Regions from separate parts of the Homo sapiens genome. Here region 1 is linked to region 2. Evidence: fine-mapped expression QTL. A gene starts in region 2. The other region holds a variant in brackets. All regions are shown on one strand. Distances are between the middles of the regions. Region 1 overlaps LINC02505 (long intergenic non-protein coding RNA 2505). Region 2 holds the start of NWD2 (NACHT and WD repeat domain containing 2).

Evidence for each region. PIP is the estimated chance that this variant, and not a neighbour inherited with it, causes the effect. A credible set is the group of variants that fine-mapping cannot tell apart.
Region 1: its variant is the best candidate, but not a certain one, in a credible set for the expression of NWD2 in pituitary (GTEx, PIP 0.62).

What each region holds. Positions count from the first base shown.
Region 1 is chr4:36,506,058-36,516,340 of GRCh38, reverse strand. The region is part of intron 3 of LINC02505 (long intergenic non-protein coding RNA 2505); the gene reads left to right. It also overlaps the pseudogene LOC100130532. Among named protein-coding and RNA genes, the nearest start is that of MIR1255B1, 85 kb to the right of the region's middle. RefSeq lists an enhancer at 2,228-2,397. The variant A/G (reference allele first, on the strand shown) is at 4,518.
Region 2 is chr4:37,239,708-37,249,990 of GRCh38, reverse strand. NWD2 (NACHT and WD repeat domain containing 2) reads right to left here and starts at 5,248. Exons shown (of 7, transcript NM_001144990.2): 1 at 4,773-5,248. The coding sequence starts at 4,923. MIR4801 (microRNA 4801) reads left to right here and starts at 8,000; the gene lies at 8,000-8,081.

The sequences.
Region 1 (10,283 bases), 730 kb after region 2:
TAATATTCTATATAATCACCTTTTAGGCTATACAGAAGATACAAAGAAAAATGTAGAATCTCTTCCCTCAGAGATAAATCACATTAATAGTAAAGATTAAAATGTCTGAGTTTGTAGTTTTTGAAGAAACAATGTTTATCTGTTTTAAGCAGGATATCAGATACCCTTCCTAATTTCCTGAGATGCCAAGGTTGGGGGCTGTGAAACCAGAAACTGTGCCACAGATCACACTGAAGTATTGTTTGTGGGGAGATGCTACTGCTACCACAGGGCCAGACACTGTGGCTTGTGGCTAGAGTCCTGAGGGTGATGCGCTGTGGATTCTCCAGCCTGAACCTCTTGCACTGTTTCTCTGGAAACTAGATGGGTTGCCATCAGCTTCACCGAAATGGTTCCCACACAGAGCTTCCATTTGGACCTCATTATCTTCTGATTCAACATTCAGCACAGATGCATCTGATTGGCAGAGCCTAAACTATGTGCCTTCACCTTAGCAGAAAAAGAGACTGGAAATTTCACATAGAAATTCCTCTCTTGGTAGAATTCCTTCCATGGCCACTTCCTACTATGGAAGTCCAGATATTCCCTAAAATTCTGGAAAAGAGTTTCTGAAGAGGAATGACTAATATTCGCTGGACAACACTAAAGCAAATTAAATGTAATCACGCAGTATATTACAGTATAAAATGAAATGTTGAATTATGTGACTCAAATTATTTATTCTTTGTGGTTTCAAACAACAGCAGCAGCAAGACTCTTAAAAATAGTAATATTACCTTAAAAAAGAAGGAAACCCAGTCACTTTTGAAACATGAATGAACTTGGAGGAGATTGCAATGACTGAAATAAACCAGACACAGAAAGACACATACTGTATGATCTCACTTATATAAGGAATCTGATAATGTTGAACTCAGGGAAGTATAGAGTAGAATGTCAGTTACCAGGGACTGGAGTCAGGGTGGTGGGAGATATTGGTCAAAATTTTAGTTAGATAGGAGGAAGAAGTTCAAGAGATCTATTGTAAAACGTGGTGACTACCGTTAATAACAACATACTGTAGTCTTCAAAGTTTTTGCTAAGAGAGTAGATTTTAATTCTTCTTACTACCAAAAAATAAGTATGCAAAGTAATGTAAGTTAATTAGCTCAATTTAGCCATTCCACAATGTATACATATTTCAAAACAATATGTTGTGCACAATAAATTTATACAATTTTACTTATCAATTAAAAATAAATTAAGAAAGTTAAAATAATAATATTAATTGAAAGATTACCATATTATACACTTCTTTTAGGCACTATCTCATTTAATCTTTGTAACAAGCATATAAATGATACTATTATAATCCTCATTTTAGGCTAACCCCTAAAGAAGTCCACAGTCTCATCACCAAAATCTGTAAATATGGTGTTCCCCCCCATGGCAAAAAGGAACATTGTTAGTGTGATTAAGTTAAGAATCAAAAAATGGGGAGATTTTCCTGAATTATCCAGATGGGTCTAAGGTAATCATAAGGGTCCTTATAAGAGGGAAGGTCAAAGTTTAAAAAAGGAGATGATAATAAAAGTGGAGGTTGGAATAATGAACTTTGAAGGAGGAAGGGGCCAGTAGTAAAGGAAGACAGATGGTCTCCAAAAGCTGGAAAAAGCAAGGAAACAGATCATCCCCTAGAGCCTCTGGAAGAAAAACAGCCCTGTCCATTCCTTGATTTCTGTATGTGAGATTCATTTTAGATTTCTGACATCTGGAACTGCTAAGACAATAAATTGTATTGTCTTAAGCCCCTAAATTTGTGACTATTTGTTATAGGATCAAAGAAAACTAATACAACTCTATTTTACAGATGAGGAAAACAGAACTTAAAATTTTTATTTCTTTACCTCATTTCTCATAGCTAATGAGTGGCAGGGCCAGGATTTGCAGTCCTGTTTGCCTGATGCCAAAATCTGCTCACCCACTTCTTGCTCCATGCCCTTGACTAAGCTATAGGCATTTGTTTTGGTGAAACAGATATTCTTGGGGGCAGGAGAAAGGAGAGAGAGTCTCATGCAATTTAGATGACAGAACATTAAACATTGATCAAGTTTCAATGAACAAAAAGGGATGAAAAGGGTTTTCCAAATGAAGTTATGGAAGTTATAGAAAGAGCTCACTACTATAGCATTTTAAATAGGCAGAAAAAACCCAGAATGCTGCCTAGTAGCTGTAATAACAGAATATACCAAAGTATGAACCTTTTGGGAGGAAGGGGAGCTGCCTTTCCCCTGAGATACTTCTACCTGAAGGTACACCACCTGGAGTAATATTCTTGGCCTCTCTATGCTTCAGAGACAGGAGTAGCTTCCTTGCTTTAGAAGTTGAGAAGTAGCTTATTTTATTAGTAAGTTTGGGAGAGGAAATGTGGATGCGTAGCTCATACTCTTCTTCTTTGGGGACCCTGCCTACCTGAACATAGTGGTGTTGTCAGCATCTCCATGACATAACTTTTTTTTTCTTTTTTTGAGACGGGGTCTTGTTCTGTTGCCCAGGCTAGAATGCAGTGGCACCATCTTGGCTCATGGCTCACTGCAACCTCCACCTCCTGGGTTCAAGCGATTCTCCTGCCCCAGCCTCCCCAGTAGCTGGGACGACAGGTGAGTGCCACCGCTCCTGGCTAATTTTTAGTATTTTAGTAGAAACAGGGTTTCACCATGTTGCCCAGGCTGGTGTCAAACTCCTGAGCTCAGGCAATCCACCCACCTCGGCCTCTCAAAGTACTAGAATTAAAGTCCTAAGCCACCACGTCCAGCCAACATAACTTTCATAGCATCCAGCTTCCACGTAAGAGGCATCCATTGTTTAATGCTGCCTGAGACTGAGGGGAAAGTTGTCCTTAGACTGACATGTGGTGTTGAATCCACTTCTATCACAGATGTGAAGGAACGTTCTCCAATATAGCCTTTCTCATTGATAAAGGTGATATTTTCCTCCTTTCCCTTTTGATTAAGAAATCCATCTTTAAGTGCTTTTCTCTCTCTCATAGTTTACTGTTAGCATTCAATAGAAGCCAAACTGCACCTTCAATAATTTGCTTAGAAATTTCTTCAACCAGACCAGGCGCGGTGGCTCACACCTGTAATCCCAGCACTTTGGGAGGCCAAGGTGGGCAGATTACCTGAAGTCAGGAGTTCCAGACCAGCCTGGCCAACATGGTGAAACCCCGTCTCTACTAGCTGGGTGTGGTGGCACACACCTGTAATCCCAGCTACTTGGGAGGCTAAGGGAGGAGTATTGCTTCAGCCTGGGAGGCGCAGGTTGCAGTGAGCCAAGATCGTGCCACTGCACTCCAGCCCGGCTGACAGAGAGAGACTGTCTCCAAAAAAAAAAAAAAAAAGAAGTTTCTTCAGGCAAGTATTCTGTCTCTCACAAGTTATTCTTTTCATAAAACATTACAACATAAACACAGTTCAGCCAAGTTCTTTGACAATTCATAACAAGAATGACCTTTCCTTAAGTTTTCAATGTTCCTCATTTCCATCTGAAACCTCATGAGAATGGCTTTCATTAGTTGAAAGAGTGAATATGTTCTAGATATAATTATTGGACCTTGTTCCACCTAATTCTAATGCCCATGCTTCATGTTATTCTGTTTATTAAAAAATTGTCTTCAAATGTTTCCTTCTGTGTAAACGTTTTCCTCATACCACCCCCGCCCCCCCCCACAACCGCCTCAGGGGGCTATGTAGTGATGTAGGGTACTGTCCAGGGGAAAGGAAAAACAATAATTATACATTCTGAATTGTAATTTAATATATTAAGCCTCATTACATAAAAAAATGTATTCCTCAGAAAGTTACTTGGTATCATCTGGCACAACATAGATAACAGCTGTTCATAAAACCCTGTTTAGTGAGCTTATTAGTACTTAAACAACTCACAGTTTCATGGTTTATTAACTGTAGAATTTCCTCAGAAAGAGGAACAATTCCTCCAACTGCTATAGAAATACAATTAATATACTACAAATAGGATCAATCTGAAAAGTATTTAATTTATATTAAGCTGTTACTAAATATATTTTGAGCAAACACATACCTGAAATCTTTTAGTGTACTAGACATTTAGTGTATATCAGGTATTACAAACTTTAAAAGGGAAGACTTTGACCTTTTAGTAGAATTATGTTGCACTGCTACACTGTGGTCTTTCTTACTGTAATAGCAGTAACAATAAAATGAAATTAGAAACATTAACTCATGTTTGCTCCGTGTAATTATTTAAAATGTTTTTTAATCTTCTCTACTTTTTCTAACATGTTCTGAAATTGAGAAGATAAGCATTTATTATCCACAATGTTCAGAATGTCTAATTCCTCAAGTCAGCAAAAAAAAAAATTCAGATCTCTTGAAATTTCTTTTTTTATTATTATTATACTTTAAGTATTGGGATACATGTGCAGAATGTGCAGGTTTATGTGTATACATGTGCCATGGTGGCTTGCTGCACCCAACAACCCATCATCTACATTAGGT[A/G]TTTCTCCTAATGCTATCCCTCCCCTGGCCCCCCACCCCGCTACAGGCCCTGGAGTGTGATGTTCCCTTCCCTGTGTCCATGCGTACTCGTTGTTCAACTCTCACTCATGAGTGAGAACATGTGGTGTTTGGTTTTCTGTTCCTGTGTTAGTCTGCTGAGAATGATGGTTTCCAGCTCCATCCATGTCCCTGCAAAGGACATGAACTCATCCTTTTTTATGGCTGCATAGTATTCTATGGTGTGTATGTGTCACATTTTCTTTATCCAGTCTATCATTGATGGGCATTTGGGTTGGCTCCAAGTCTTTGCTATTGTGAATAGTGCTGCAATAAACATACATGTGCATGTGTCTTTATAGTAGAATGATTTATAATCCTTTGGGTGTATACTCAGTAATGGGATTGCTGGGTCAAATGGTATTTCTGGTTCTAGATCATTAACATATTGGTGATCAGGCCATCAATAAAGTCATTAGAATGGCTGAGACTGCCTAAGAATACAGTATTAAGAAGGTAGAGAAGATGGCCAGAGAGAGAAACACAAATGATACCAACACTTCAAAGGTGATGGGCTTCCGGAAGAGAATAGATTACTTGATTAAACAGTGAAAAAAAAATATGGTAACCATTGGAGAGTTTTAAGGAGATCAAGCTAAACTTCAAGAAGATAAAATAAATTAATGACTAAAAAGTAACCACTGTATTTATCCATTAGATCATTGGAGACCTTAACAAGAATAAATTATTATAAATAGAGGGCTATTGTATAATCCTGACTCCACCAGGTTGACTGGTAGATGGGTGATGTGAGTGGTTTTACTCAGTACAGATTACTATTCTGAAAAGTGGAGATAATAAAGAAAGTAAAGATAGAGTCAAAAGATGGTGGCAGAAAAGTTAAGCAAATTGAGAGGAACATGTAAGTAGAGAGAAAGTGAAGACAGATGAATGAAGGTATAACTGATTAGCAATGTTCTAGGTGGAGACAGGAGAAAATGAGATCACGGTCGTGACTGGAGGAAAAAACCCATCTCTGGGACTGGATAAAATAGAATAAAGATGATGTATTTGTTTGCTAGGGCTGCCATACCGAAGTATAATTAACTGAATGGCTTAAACAATAGAAATTTCTATTTTCATTCTGGATGCTAGAAGTCCATAAGGTTTGGGCAGTGTTGCTCTCTTCTGTGGCCTTTCTCCTTGACTTATAGATGGCCATCTTGTCCTAGTGTCTTCTCATAGTCTTACCTCTACACATGCTGTGTCCACATTTCCTCTTCTTATAAGGATATTTTTCATATTAGGTCATTAGTCATATTCCTAGTAACCTCATTTTAATTTACTTATTTAAAGATCTTATCTCCAGATGTGGTCACATTCAGAGATAATGGGAGTTATGACTTTAGTATACAAATTTTGGGGAGATGCAACTCAGTCCATAAAGATGGGTAGATACTTCTAATAATTAAATAAAAGTCATATTGAATATCTAACCAAATGTTTAACACATATTTTTAAAGCATGCTTATAAAATGCAGGTTGCACAATTGGAATCATAGGAGCAGAAAGACTATGGAAAGTAGGTCTTACAGCTAAAGAATATTCAAAACGAAGTTTCTGCATTCAGAGGACACAAGAGATTCAACCCTGAACATCTCTGCTTTTCTGCTTTCAACCATATTTCAAATCTGCTTTCTGGCAATAAACACTGATTGTTATTGGAGGTCACGCTTCAGGGTACGTAGTATAGAGTCATTGACAAATTGCTTCTGTGCTGTAAGGTGAAAATGATGAAATATTCTGCTATATCTCAAGCATTGTTTCTTCCAGTTACATCATCTTTGAAAACATCAAAAAGCCTAAACAGTTGCTAAGAAGAATATATCCAATCCTCTGTATGTCTATAGGGATTGTCAAATTTAATGATTTATTTATCTTTCACTCTTCATCAGATTTACTGAGCTTCACTCTATAAGAAAAATATACAGATTTAACGGAATGCTTATTAAGAACAGAGTAAATGCAGACTCAGTCAAAAAATGGCATTTTATCAACTGTCAGAAAATATGAGCAATCTTTCAAATTATCTGCCTTCATTAAAATCAATTTTTAAATTAAATTATATAAACATATGGTATAAGGTTATTCCTTTAGGAAATGTCATTTTATTTCCTCTATGTGTAAACCTTTGCATACAATTTCAATGCTCCTTATGCATCTTCTGTATAACAAACTGAGGCAGGACCTCCAAGCTGCATGACTCGAGTCCCTGTGGAACACAGCAGATCCTCAAATAACACTGTTTTGTTGAGTGTTGATTCCTTATAACATTGATGATAAAACTAAATAAATCGATTACCATTGAGGCCACTGTCTGTGTGGTGTGCACATTCTTCCCATGTCTGAAGGATTTTCTCTGAGTACTCTAGTTTCCTCCTACATCTCAAAGCTATACACGTTACAATAATTAGTGTGTCTCAGTGGTCCCTGTCTGAGTGAATATGGGTGTGTGTGAGTGCACCCTGTGATAAGATGGCATCTTGTCCAGGGTAAATTCCCACTTTGTACCCTGAGCTATAGAGAGAGACTCCAGCCACCTGCAACTCTAAACTGGAGTAAGTGGGTACAATAATTACCTTGCTTGTTTTTATTAATCTGTCTTAAATGTCTGTATAGCACACGCTTACTTTAATGTTTAATATTAGAAGTGTTTTGCTCTTCATTTAGAAGTTGGTGATGTTTTTGTGACCAGAAATATGCTGTAGGAACTTAACTCTTGTTTACATCAATTAGTCTATGTTAAAATTTGCTTCATTGCACCTCATTTTGATTAAAGTTACAGTTTCCAAGAACTTATCAAGACAGTAAGTGAGGATTTACTGTACTCTGGCTGCTGAATAACCCTGGCTGGCATCTGCTTTCTGCCAGAATTGCTGGAAAGCAGAAGGAACCAATCAAATGTAGTCATTTCAATTGGCTCTGCATTAACACAATATTGGATGCAAATTGCCACCACTTGCTCATGACCATTTTCATGGGCTGGGTCTTAGGAATTTCTTCTTCTATTATTTTAATACAAAAATCTACAGATAGTTTCCTTCAAGGAGCATGGACGGTGTTCGCTTCACTATTTTCAAATTCATATAGGCAAAGCTGTTGGACTCTGCAGCTATAGTGACCTCAGCCAGGAAGCTCCAACCACAGCACTTTCTAAATATACATTTTTCATTCCCAGGGGTACTCAGGAGCAGTGAAAGGGAAGTGATCTTCATTTTAAGTGGCTTCATGGAAGTGTTCATACTTAACAAATGCTTGATTGATGTTTTCTATTGTGTCTATTCAGCTGCAAATCCACTCTTTGTTCCAGATATTGGGAGGGTTACTGAATTCATGGATAATACAGATATGATAGACAGGGGTAGAGACCACTGAATAACTTCTGCTCCAAAGGTAGTGCGTTTACCTGCTACATTGGGCATAGGTATATGATATGATTTCTTTCAGGAGGCATCCTTAGTATCTAGTCTAATGTGTAATCCATATTTAGTTTTTTGTATTGTACATAGTCAAATTAATTTACAATTTGTGCATTTTCTATTTTTAGATGTTTCAGTAACTTGTGCCTCATAATATGAATGAATCTCATCTTGAAACAGTTTTTCAGCACTAGATCTGTGACTTCATAGTTTGTCATAATTATTTCCACAAGATTTTTGGATTTTAATACAAAGACATGCACATGGTCACCCTTTATCACAGGATCACTGACACTGATGGGGTTATCTGCCATCTACTTCGGCTTCATGGCATGGTGTGACTTTGTTTTGGCAACGTCTGACAATGCTATGGACTATACTGACTCTCTGATTTGTAATTTAAGCTCAGAGTAATTGACAAGCACCCTTCTTAAGAGTCCAGACTTCTTGAAGTTCTAGGTTGTCTTTTTCATCATCACTCTGAATAATGAACAGTAACTGATGTTGGTTTTACTCCATACTGAAGACTACTGGGTCCTGCTTATTTCTCATTAGTATTCACAAAAATAATTGCCTATTAGCTGGAGTATTACTTCCACTCTCAGCCACCACCTCTCCATCTTCTTGCACTTGTCTTCCATCTCATTCAACGTGTCAGGTGCAAACTGCTGCTGTCCTGGTTGCAGGTCTTGCTGAAAGTCATTGTCCTCATTTGAGTTATCTTTGTGATGGCAATTGTTGTCTTGGGATGTTGGCATTATTATTCTGGGCATTATTATCGTTGTTACTCTTGGAGATCTATTTGCTAACAAGGGCCAAGGAAACCCAAATTCCTATGCCTGCACTAAAGCAAACTCAAGTATAGCCCTTGAGTGGTTGACGAAACAATATAGTCCAGTCAAATAAACTCCAACTGGGCAACAATTCAATAAACTGGCCGAAGGAATCAGGCTTCAGTATATGGCACTGAACTAGGCTGATATTAACCAATCAATTCCATCTCGAGTGGTCTGAGATCCAATAGTATGGTTTATATAGATAAGACAGTTATAAATTACAGATATTTGATATAGGAAAAACTTCATTGATTACCTTTATTCCTATAATGATGATGATACCAGGATATTCTACCACATCAGTCAAACCATACTTTACCAGATCTGCATCAGCCATTCTGCTCTGCAGCTCACTCATCTACATATCCCAGATGGTGGGTTTCACACTTGTAGAACTTCAACTCTGACATCTTAATGAAAAAAAAAGACATAACTGTTGGTTCAGGAATGCTGGATTCAAACTTTATGTAAGCTACAGGGCAGTGAGGGTGAAGAACTAAGATCTTTTTTAAGAGCATTTTTGCAAACTCCCCAAACAATACTGCACAAATTTCTAAAATCATGTGATCTCTAACTGCCTCCAATTACATATCAGATGAGACCTACAATGAAAGGAACTGGAACCATTTCTAGGTGTTCCTAGTTTCAGGAAGAGGCTAAATATGTTACTAAAAAGATGTATTTTCAGGAATTTAAGGGTCCTTTACATTTCCTCATGATGAAAGATCTTAAGCTGATGCACAGAAAGCTTTTAAACAGCAGTGGTTTAGTAACTTTTAACTACTCCAAATAGAGGTGTCTGAGGGTTGAACTATAAAGAATTTCAGGAACATTTACCCCTACTAAACATGAAGTTTTTATTCTGGATCTCATAGAAATTTTCAGTTTATTTTCAGGAGGAGTCAGAAATGATTCATCATTCATTACAAGAATTTCCCTAAAATATAACCCACAGCGGCAGTAGGTTATGCTGTAGGTAACCTACAGAACATGTGCCATATTTGTCCAAATGGACTCTGCCAACTACAAATGAGAGGTTTCCACATCTAGTAACTTTGGATATGCTTGCAAAGCTTCTAGGACTCCTAGAATGCTAAATGTCTCATGGTCTTGTACTCTCCACCTCTCAAGGTATCTAGGGTGAAGGCCATGTAGTTGTTTGATGTCTGACATCTTATTAAAGTGTTGGAAAACTGGAAATCTGTAAAGCCACTTGGGATGTATTTTCACCACCACTCTGCACAGGACCCACAACCTTCACAACTCTCAGATACAAGGACATTGCTTTCTTTAGCTTTCTGAAAACATTCCATACACATGATATCCTACAGAAGGAGGTAATTAAAAATAAGGCAATGCACATCAGGTGAAAGTTGATTTACATAGTCCCTTAGTTCATCTGATATTATTTCCAGGGGGATTTCATTATACATGAAACACCTTTTAACATTCTT
Region 2 (10,283 bases):
TGGGGAAGCAAGTTCAAGCAATTGAGCACTAGTTGTAGCAAATGAACCCATGTACACATATAAAGGGAAAGCATGTCTCTTGCTGTTACTTCCACTGTAACGGAGAACAAACCTTCCTATGGAGACCCCAAAGGCATGAAGAGTCTGGGAAGATGCAAAGCCATGCAGACAAAAGAAAACCAAGTAGTAATGGTATGAACACCTGATCAACACTGTGGACAAGAGTTCATGACTCTCAATAATGACCAGCACAGAAATCTGAGTGGACAGAAAAATGCATTAAGTGTTAAAATATATTTTTCTCCACTTCAGATATCTTTTTGCATGCAGAGGGCAATGCACTAGTGTAGGATGCTGTCAGTTACTCCTTAGGGGAGAAGTATCTTAATCTTATGGCTGCAGTTGGAAGGAAAATCTGACCACAATAGCCCAGCCTCTGCTTTCTTTCTCGTAAAATTGCCATTCTCCTCCACTCCTCCATGTGTTAAGGTTTAAAGGGATCTACTCTGTCCACGAGCCAGGGAGAGTGGTCTGTGCTCTGCCCACTGCTGACAATGACTGGGAGTAAAGCCTGTCTAATTCTTGGGTTCAATATTGGGAAACTCCCTTGCCCAGAGTTAAAACCATATTCTCCAACAAAAGTCTGTATCTTTTACCTGCAATTCCAAAAATCTCCAAAGCTTTGAACATAAAAGGTTTTCCCCAATCCATCTGGTAGCAAAACTTGAAGTAACCTGAGTCCTTGATGGCCAAACCTGACCTTGACTGACATGAAGCTACTTAAAATCTGTATCACTCCTCTTGGAGCTTTGCTATCTGATACAACAGCCACATGTGTCTATTTAAATTCAAATCCATTAAAATTGTATAAAATTAAAAATTCATATTCTTAGTCATACTAGCCACATTTCAAATGCTCAATAGCCCTATGTGGCTAGTGTTACCATATCAGATAGACATTTCCAGCATCACAGAAAGTTCTGTATAACACTGACTTAGAGTGAACTCATGTTTCCTTATACACCTATTCATATCCGACATGGGTTGTTACCCCAGAACCCACATATTAGAGCGTAAGTATTTTTCCTCAAAATCTGAAAAAAGAGATTCCAAAATCACATCTGGCCCAGATGATCACAGATAATGGATTGTGGACCTGCACTGTTTTCATCAGTAATAAAAGTGATATTTTGGTCTTCCTTCTGTGTTAAGACTGTACCTTCCTATAAACTGATAAAGAATCAAGACAGAGAAGAGGAGGGCCTTTACACTCTAATAACAGGGAGAGAATCTCGCAGGTTCCTTTCATCTCCATATGCATGGACTATTTAGGCTAATCACAGTAAAGGATTTTATGTGGGTTTTAAAATCATCTTTCCAAGGAGCTATAAGTGCTGTTCTGGCAGAAGTACAGTAGCTAAATGACTAGAAAACTTCCAAGGATTGATGAAGATGTCACAGATGGAATTTCTATGTTGGGTGGGAGGTGGAACTAGATGAAGTCCAAGGCCCATCCACTTAAAAAAATCTGGGATAATGCTATCACCTCCCCCACATGGGTCCTTCTCCAGCATCTTCCATGAGGTGGGGACTAGTCAGAGGCAGATACACTTCTGGACAAGAATGTGTCAATTAGAGTCCAGCACATTTTGAAATTTCCTTGAATGCCTCGGACTACCTCTTGGTGGGAGCAAAGTGGGTCAGCATAGCCATGTTCCCTGCCAGCTGTTCATACTCTTTAAGTCTGACAGCCAGAAGATGCTGGACAGTGCTTATCCCCCTATCTGTATTGTCTTGCCCACGTGGTGTGAGATATTTCACAGAGATCTGTCAAGAGCCTAGGCTGGACAAGAGAATATCAAGTGTTGTCAGGGTCCTATAGGCTCTACTCTTTCACTCTGCTATATGAATTCTGGCAAGTGGTATAATTTGATACAGCCTCAGTAATCTCATCCGTAGAATAGATGGAACACCCCTGGTCCACTACCCTCAGAGGGTTGTTTGAGGATAGAAAACAAAATGAAAATATTGAATGAACTAATATATGGGAAAGTAATTTTTTCATTCTAAAGAAATTCTACGGTTAGGTGCGGTGGCTCACACCTGTAATCCCAGCACTTTGGGAGGCTGAGGCAGGTGGATCACCTGAGGTCAGGAGTTTGAGACCAGCCTGGCTAACATGACGAAACCCCGTTGCTACTAAAAGTACAAAAGTTAGCCGGGCGTAGTGGTGGGCACCTGTAATCCCAGCTACTCTGGAGGCTGAGGCAGGAGAATAGCTTGGAGCCGGGAGGTGGAGGTTGCAGTGAGCCGAGATTGCGCCACTGCACTCCAGCCTGGGTGACAAGAGCGAGACTCTGTCTCAAAAAAAAAAAAATTCTATTCATTCTATTATCTATTTCATTCTATTATCTTCGTTACCGATGGGGAAATTCCATGCAAGCCTTGTAAAGCACTACCTATTAAAACAATACTCCAAGCAAAATCCTTGCTGGGTTCTGAGTATTGCTGTGAGTTCAACACAAAGCAGCTTTTATTTAGAACATAAATTGGATTTCCGCTAGTAAAGGAAAGCATGAGATAATGTTCTTTGTCTTAATTTGACAGTAGAGAGGCTCTTCAGTATTGGCCAAGAATCTAATATTGGATCATACCAAAACACAGGCATTTGCTTTCTAAATTGCATCCATAAAGATCCCACGGTCAAGTGCTGCCTCTGACAGAGCATTTACCAAGATTTTAAGGCTTCACGTTCAGATCATTAAAAATGCCCATCTGTCTTTTTTATTTAATATGCCATCCGCTCTCCAATTTGGATAAAATCTGAGATCCTGCCCCTATTGAAACTTCCCAGGTAAGCTTCACATTTCTGTTTTGTTTGTTAAGATCCTTGTGGAAGCTGTCCAGCTCAAACCGTAGCCAAGGGGCATGACTGGCTCCTCCCTCCTGTTTGCTTTCCTAGGGTTAATCTGTGCTAAAGCTTTTATTCGAAGAAACTAGGAAATTTGAAGAATCATATGGACAGGCTTAAAAAAATGACATTAACCTTGAGTACTAACTCAATATTAAGCTGATAGTATAAATTCAGTATCGTTTTTATCTTAGAAATTGCAAATCTAGACAGCAAGAAAAAAATTACACATATTAGCAGAATTCTTATTGTATTTTAGAAGCCACAAGTTTAAAGAAAAAGAGTGATTTAGCTAGCTTCACATCAGCAGATTGAAACACATTTCACATGACTTTTTTAAAAGCTCAGAACTAAAAATGTCTAACATTTAAACATTTTCTAACATAATTCTCTCACTTAAAAATGTTCTAGCAATATTTTAAAGAAGTAACCCTCAACCCTTAAGTCGCAGATTGCCTTAAATAGGCTGAATATCTCCATTTTTTTTCTTTAAATCCAGATATAGGTACAAATCCTAGACGACATCTTTGAGATACAATGATTTTTTGAGTGTACCATATCATCCTAAAAGCCTCCTTAAGTTCTTTGAAAGTGAACTGTAAACTGATAAAAGGACAGTCGTGCCGTCCCCCAAGAGTATATCGTCTTTCTAATACTAATTAGTGCATGTTATCGTTTTGATTCTCTCCCCAACTCCTTCTCATAATGTAAGCTTTACCTCAGACTTCTGCTAGTGCTATTTTTTCCGAAACGGTAATTTTCTAGAAAGTTACTTTTGTTGGTCTTCTCCGAAAGCTTTTTCAAGAAACCAGAACCTTGGGTTTTCAAATGAGAATTATATCCAATGATCGTTTGAATGTGGACTTTTCTCCTCGACTCTTTTCGACTCAAGGCTTGTTAGAGTGCAGAAAACGTTAATTCTCAAATCTTTCACCTCTGTCAGTCTCCCATGGACTCATAGCCAAACATTTTTTTTCCTAGAAAAGAGCAATTCCTGCAGTTTTATCCTGCCCCAGTCAAATACATCTTTCCTTCCCCAACTCCCCAATTACTGGGAATGAAATCTAACGTTGAGGACTAAGGACTGGAAGGTAGTGATGAGCCAGGATTTGACCGCCCAGCGTTCAACCTCTGTGGTTGTGAATGCAACAAGAAATCAACAAGTTTTCATGGAGTGCCTACCAGGTGCCTTAAGCAGGAACATGACTGAGTAGGCCAAGTTTTAGATACAGAAGACCAAGCCCTGTGACCCAACTGAGATGAGCCCATCCTGCGCGCCCCACCGCGAAGCCTGTTCCGGGACCCACAGAGGGTGTCCCCCTCGACCTCCGGTTCACAAAAGTCTGCTTGGCCTCTGCAAAGGGCACCATCGCACCTGCAGGAGGAGAGTCTCAAGGAACTCACCTCGCCTCAGCTGGAAAAAGTGGCCAAGGAGGTAGCCCCGCACTCAGGAACCCGCCTCGGGGAGGAGAGCTACTGTTTGTGTTTGCGGTCATCTCGGAGAAGAAACCGCTTTAAAAAAAAAAAAAAGGGCGGGGGACAGGAGGTGGTGGTGGCGGCGGCGGCAGAATGGAGCTTCCAGAAGGGCCGGCTAATGCCTTGGATGTTTCTTGGATTGACCCAGGGGAATAACCCGGGGTGGAGAATGGGTGTCCTAATAGAAGTGTGCAGGCAAAACCGGCCAGCGAGGGGAGAAAAAAAGTGATTCAAATTAAATTCCCACGCGCTCAGGGCGGCCACGGCTTTAGCTGGAGGAAGGGAGCGCAGGGCGCACCGGGCTGTGGGGCGGACACACACTCTCCAGCTCCCGCAGCGCTGACGGACAGAAGGACGGACGGGCAAACCCGAGCGAGGGACGTACCTTCAGGGTTGGCGCTGATGAAGACCCGGACGCTGCGGCCGGCGGGCACGAGGTGAGAGGGCAGGGCCGTGAGGTTCCCAGAGAAAGCCGCCCGCCGGAGCGCAGAGTCTCGGGGACAGGGCAGCTTGGTGCCCGCGCCGGCCGGCCACATCGCCCTCTGGGAGGAACAGCCACTGCCGCCGCCGCCACCTCCTGCTCCTCGGGTTCCTGCCCGCAGCTCCACGGAACGGCTCAGCAGGCGGTCGATCTCAGCAGGCGGCGCGGCTCAGAGCCGCTCCGAGCCCGAAGCGCCTTTGGCGAGCTCCGTGGCGCACAGCACCCGCCGGCGAGGAGAAGCCATACGGACCCTCGGGCTCCTGTCGCGGCGGTCTCCTGCCCTTCTGGGCCTCCGCCTTCGCCCGCTGCTAGGGCTCCGAGCAGCAGCCAGCTGGAGCGGGAGGTCAGCGTGGCGGCGGCTACGCGCGCAGCGCCCGTTTGCGCCGGGAAGCGCCGGCGGCCATCTCCCCGCCCGCGCCCGCCGTGGGAGGAGGGGGCCGCCAGGCGGCAGGGACCGTGCGAGCGAGGAGAGCAGATGAAACTTTATGTACCAGAAGGCGTCCCGACTTTATCCGAGCCCGCCTCTCTCGGGCGCAGAAATAACTTGCGGCTTAGAGGACGGCCGGGGCTTGGGCGCGGGGGCCTCGGGGGTGCGCAGGAGCCTCCTGGACTCCTCTGTGGACAGCCGAGGGCTCCTGTCTGCCTCCGTGGTGGAGGACAAGAAATCAATTAGCCTGAGATTTCTACTACGCCCCCTCCAACTCTCCTAAAGGTCACACAAGCCCTGAGAATTTTCGGGAATCCACACGCTCGGGCGTCTGTGCGTCTCTGCCCAAGTGCAGGGAATCCAGCCTCAAAGTTCGACGCACACAACCCCAAGCCAGACCCGGAGAGTTTAAAGCATCAAGTCTCCAGATTGTCTCTGGCGTCCTGGAGGGACGATCGCTTCATCCCTATCTCTCCTGGCGCAGGTGGCAGCGTCCTGCCGCTCCGGTTGCTCCCCACGCGCGCTTGAGCGGGGTTTTTATAGCCAAGCTGCGCCGTTCACGTGCTCCTCGCCGCGTGGTCCCGGAACCTTTCTGGGAGCGGATCTCCGCGGGTAGTTCCTCCGAGGCCTCCAAGGTTCCTAGGGGCCTTTCTGCTCCCATCAAGGCGCACTCACCGGCTGTTCTGCTCGCCTGACAGCTCCCGGGCCCGTCGGCCGCCAGGTTGCTGGAGCCCCGCGCGGCCGGGTGCGCACCTGGGCCGGGCGGGAGGGTGTGGGTTCTCTGGAGCGCCCCCCAGCGCAACGTTACGCAAAGTGCAGGTGGCCGTGGATTGGGACCGGGGTGCGAGAAATCGGAGCTGGCTGTGGGCAGCAGCTTCTTGTGTGCGCTTCAGCCGCTCTTCAAAGTCAGTGCAACGCGTAGGTCAGCTCCACCTGAAGTTGATCCAGGGCGGCCACAGAGGACGCGGGGCCGTCCTCGGGTTCCGGGCTCAAGGTGGACGGCGCAGGGGTCCAGTCCACGTCCTAGGTGACATGAGACGCAGAGGGACCCAGATGTAAAATCGCCGTCTCCCTTCCACTCCACTGCACCCATGGAAATACTGCATAAGCCAGGACAGGAACGAAGACCTCGCAAAATAAAGTGTAATTGTGTTGGGGGCCAACGGCGCAGGGAGAAGGGAGTGTTTGTAGCCTTAATTGCAGTTTAGTCAATAAATCACTTATTCTGGGCTTCTGGGCAGGAACACCTGTCTTTTAGGGAAGAAGAACAGTTTTTCCAAATCTCTGAGATTGGGGAAGGGGTGGGCGGGCACAGGGTGAGGCAGTTCAGACGCAAGTGTTCTCTTCTTGCCTGGATGGTCCTAACCTAAGCAGCCCGGCCTCCTCTGGGCCTGCACTTCCTCTGGGGCCTGCTGGTGGCAGTGAAGTCCTATGCACTGCTGTTCATTTTTTTACCCCACCCCAGCCCCAACACACACGTTCTGGGGTAACCTCTTTGGAAGAATTGGGTCTCTAGGTTTGTAAGGCTGCCTCTCCACTCCTGAGAACCAGGGGGCAGACAGCAGCAGTTCTTACTTTGTGATAATTTGATGCAACCCGTAAAGAAGGCTTGAACATACCCAGTTATTTAATTGATTCAATTTCTTCACTCCAGAGTCATTCTCGGGTGGAAATGTTCTCAGCAGGAAGGGGGTCCCTGAAAGATCCTCTATTGTCTCAAGAGGTATGGACTGAGAGCTGTGGAAAGGTCATGAATATGCGGTATTTATTGCATATCATCGTGTATGAATATACAGTATCTATTACTGGAGAAAAGAGCTAGGATCACTTTATGCCTGATCTCAATATTGTTTATAAAAGAGTGATTAGAAGTTGCCAGATTGTCAGGGACCTGCCTTCCTGCCTTTCTTTTTTCTCTTACTTCTTTGTTTGTTTCTCTCTTCTCAGAAATAGGATTAGTGTTTGTGTCTTCTGACCTTTGCTTCAGATCTCAAAGTGTTGCATTTTCTTTGGATGACTTTGGGATTTTTGGCAGCCTCTATAACCTAATTAACTGTTCTAGACAGGCCGAAGTTTAGCATCTGCCAGTGTCACTGCAGACCAAGGCTGCAGAGGAGAGAGAATTTCACATTGTCTGTGGGCCACGCTGTAAAAGGCTCTTTGCACAGCCAGCTTTGCCTCAGCTAGAGAGGCTGCTGTCTTTGGAGTATTCTACCTAAGAAGGATACCAATTACTCACCTCCCTCAAAACACACACACATACACACACACACACACACACACACACACACACACGCATGTACATGCAAAAACAATCTTCTTCCACATTCTTCAGCTTGCAAGCATCTGACATCCTAACACCAGATATTGATTTCTTAGCACACAAATACCAATAAAGGAGGTGTCACCTATGGTGATAACACTTTATTATAAATTATTTAGATTTATTTCTTAACCTGAGGAACCAGAAAGAAAGAATTAGAGAGAGAGAGACAAATGAGAGGGAGAGGGCATGATTGTGGAAGGCTGACCCTGATTTTCAAGACAACTTTGTTTTTTTTATATCCGATTAAAATATTTTCTAAACGTTTTCTTCTTGTCCATAAATACTGGGAGTTTTTGAACCATGACAGGAGCCGTGATACCTGGATCCTGGCTCTACCATTAATGAGTTATGTGACCTTGAACAAGTCATTTAACTTTTTTGAGGCTTGGTTTTCTTATGTGTAAAATGTAATAACATTTCTTATGTTTAAAACACTTTACACAAGAAAACCAAGGCTCAAAAAATGAAATGACTCAAACCAAGTCAAATGACTCAAAACCAAGACTCAAAACAAGTGAAATGACTTGTTCAAGGTCACATAATGAGTTAATGGCAGAGCCAGGATCCAGGTATCACAGCTTCTGTTCCAGTGCTTCTTGCAACATACCACCTCTATTTTCTAATTTTGCTCAGGTCTGGCCCTTGAGGACATCTTTGTTAACCTGGACAGTGGGTGCTCAGGCCTGTGTTCACAGGTGTGGAAGGCTGGATATCATTTCTGCTTTCTAGATAGGAAAGAAGATCATTGTCTTCATGATCACACAGGACTAGACTCTTCCAACTTCTAGGTTGTTGATCTGATGACAAACACTTCCAGATTCTGTGTTTCTTTTGGGTCCTGCTCTTTCTTCATGAGACCACAGGTAAATCTGTACCATCCCAGACATGGGCTGGAGAATTTAAAGCATCTAGAAATGGGAAGGTGAAAGTACATGAAAAAATGAGCCTGGGACCAAGACTGTGATCAAAAACAAGCATTCCCCTCTCCATCCTCTCACGCTACCACCAATTAGTAGGCTAGACAGGTGCCTTATCCTTATAAAACAATGGGAGCTAGCTCTTTATAAAACAAGGGTGCCCAAAGGTAAAATTACCACTAGCTTCATTCTACTCACTGAGCTAGAAGGAGCCTTGTGATCATGAAATGAAACCCCCTTTAATATGTAGGTGATGCCCAAATTGTAATTTTATTAAATGAGTGGAAAGAAAATTACTTCCTAATAATACTGATATATGAGGATTTCCCATATTCTTGACCTGCTGTTAGGCTTTTAATAGGCATCTCATTTAATCGCACTACATCGAGGGTCTGGGCCCAGCACCTCCTATCTCCAAGTCTGACATCCCTTCTTGGACACTACTGTTCCTGTATATCTTTTGTTATGTGCATTCATTACCTTTTGTAACATATGTGCACTTTGCTTGCTCCGAAGTCTATGGTATGCACATGTACCTCACCTACTTCCCTTCACTGTGATGGCTGATGATTTTTCCCCCAGCTTCGTGGCTATGTCACATGTCCAGTTCATTCCTCGTAGGTGCTGGAGGTAGTGATCAAAAGGCACAAAACTAGAGTCCCTGTGACTGACTGTGACCCAGCAGAAAGAGTGCCCATCACCCAACCTGTATTTGCCTGCAGGTGCATTCCCATGTGTGTACATCAAATATCCTGGTCAGGAAACCTGTGGATCATTCTTCCATGAAATAAATTTGTTCTGTTATGGATAGAAGTGAAATAGAGCCCCTAGTGTCATGAAGAAGACCACATTAGCACATCATGCCACTCTTACTATTTTAGGGACTCCACCCAGTGAAGTCAGTGATGTGCTGTTCTTGCTTCCCTAGCTTGAAGAAGAGTATCAGACTTAATATTACATTCATACAGTGGCTCTATGATTTGGGTGATAAATAATTGAATCTGCTTTGCTAATGTGAGAAATAGATTATTCAGGGTCACTCAAGCCAGGGTTCCACTTTTCAAAGTTCTAGGTGGTAAGCTAGATCATTAGGAACCCACTTATTTGTTTACAAAATGGAAATTTTCAGTCTTTGTGAGAATTTGTCAGCATAACAATTTGCCAACAGAGACTGTTGATTCAGAGGTGTCTGTGGCATGATAGAATTCACAGCAGCACAGTTTTAAATAAAGTTACACCTTTCAGAAAGCGCTCTGATGTTTTCATGACTCAGAAATTCTAACTTTACCTCCACCCCCTTCCAAATCTGCGTAATGTATTTTTTGAGCAGCCTTCCTCTTACAACCTTCTAAACACATTGCTATGAGAGCACTATGCATGCCACACAAAGTAGAAGAAAGTTAAAGAAGTTTGAAGTAAAAGTTTGTAGATTATTTTGTATTTCTAAATTAAATATTTTATTTTCATTTTGTAATTGCCAAGGTTGTTTTTCTTTTTTTCTCCTTCATGACAATCTCAAATACAGTACCTTACAAAACCCTCCTCTTGCTTGTTTCATCATCTGATACTTATTTGGAGAGTTGCTTTTTACAAAGCACTTTCATACATGTTAGCTCATTTACTTTTAGTCTAACCTTCTAAAATGGGTTCTGCATTAACATTATTTCCCTCTCCTCTCCAATTTTTAATGTGAAGCTCGAGTGATTTTAGTGGCATGTTTAGGTTCACTCAGTTGCTGGATAGCA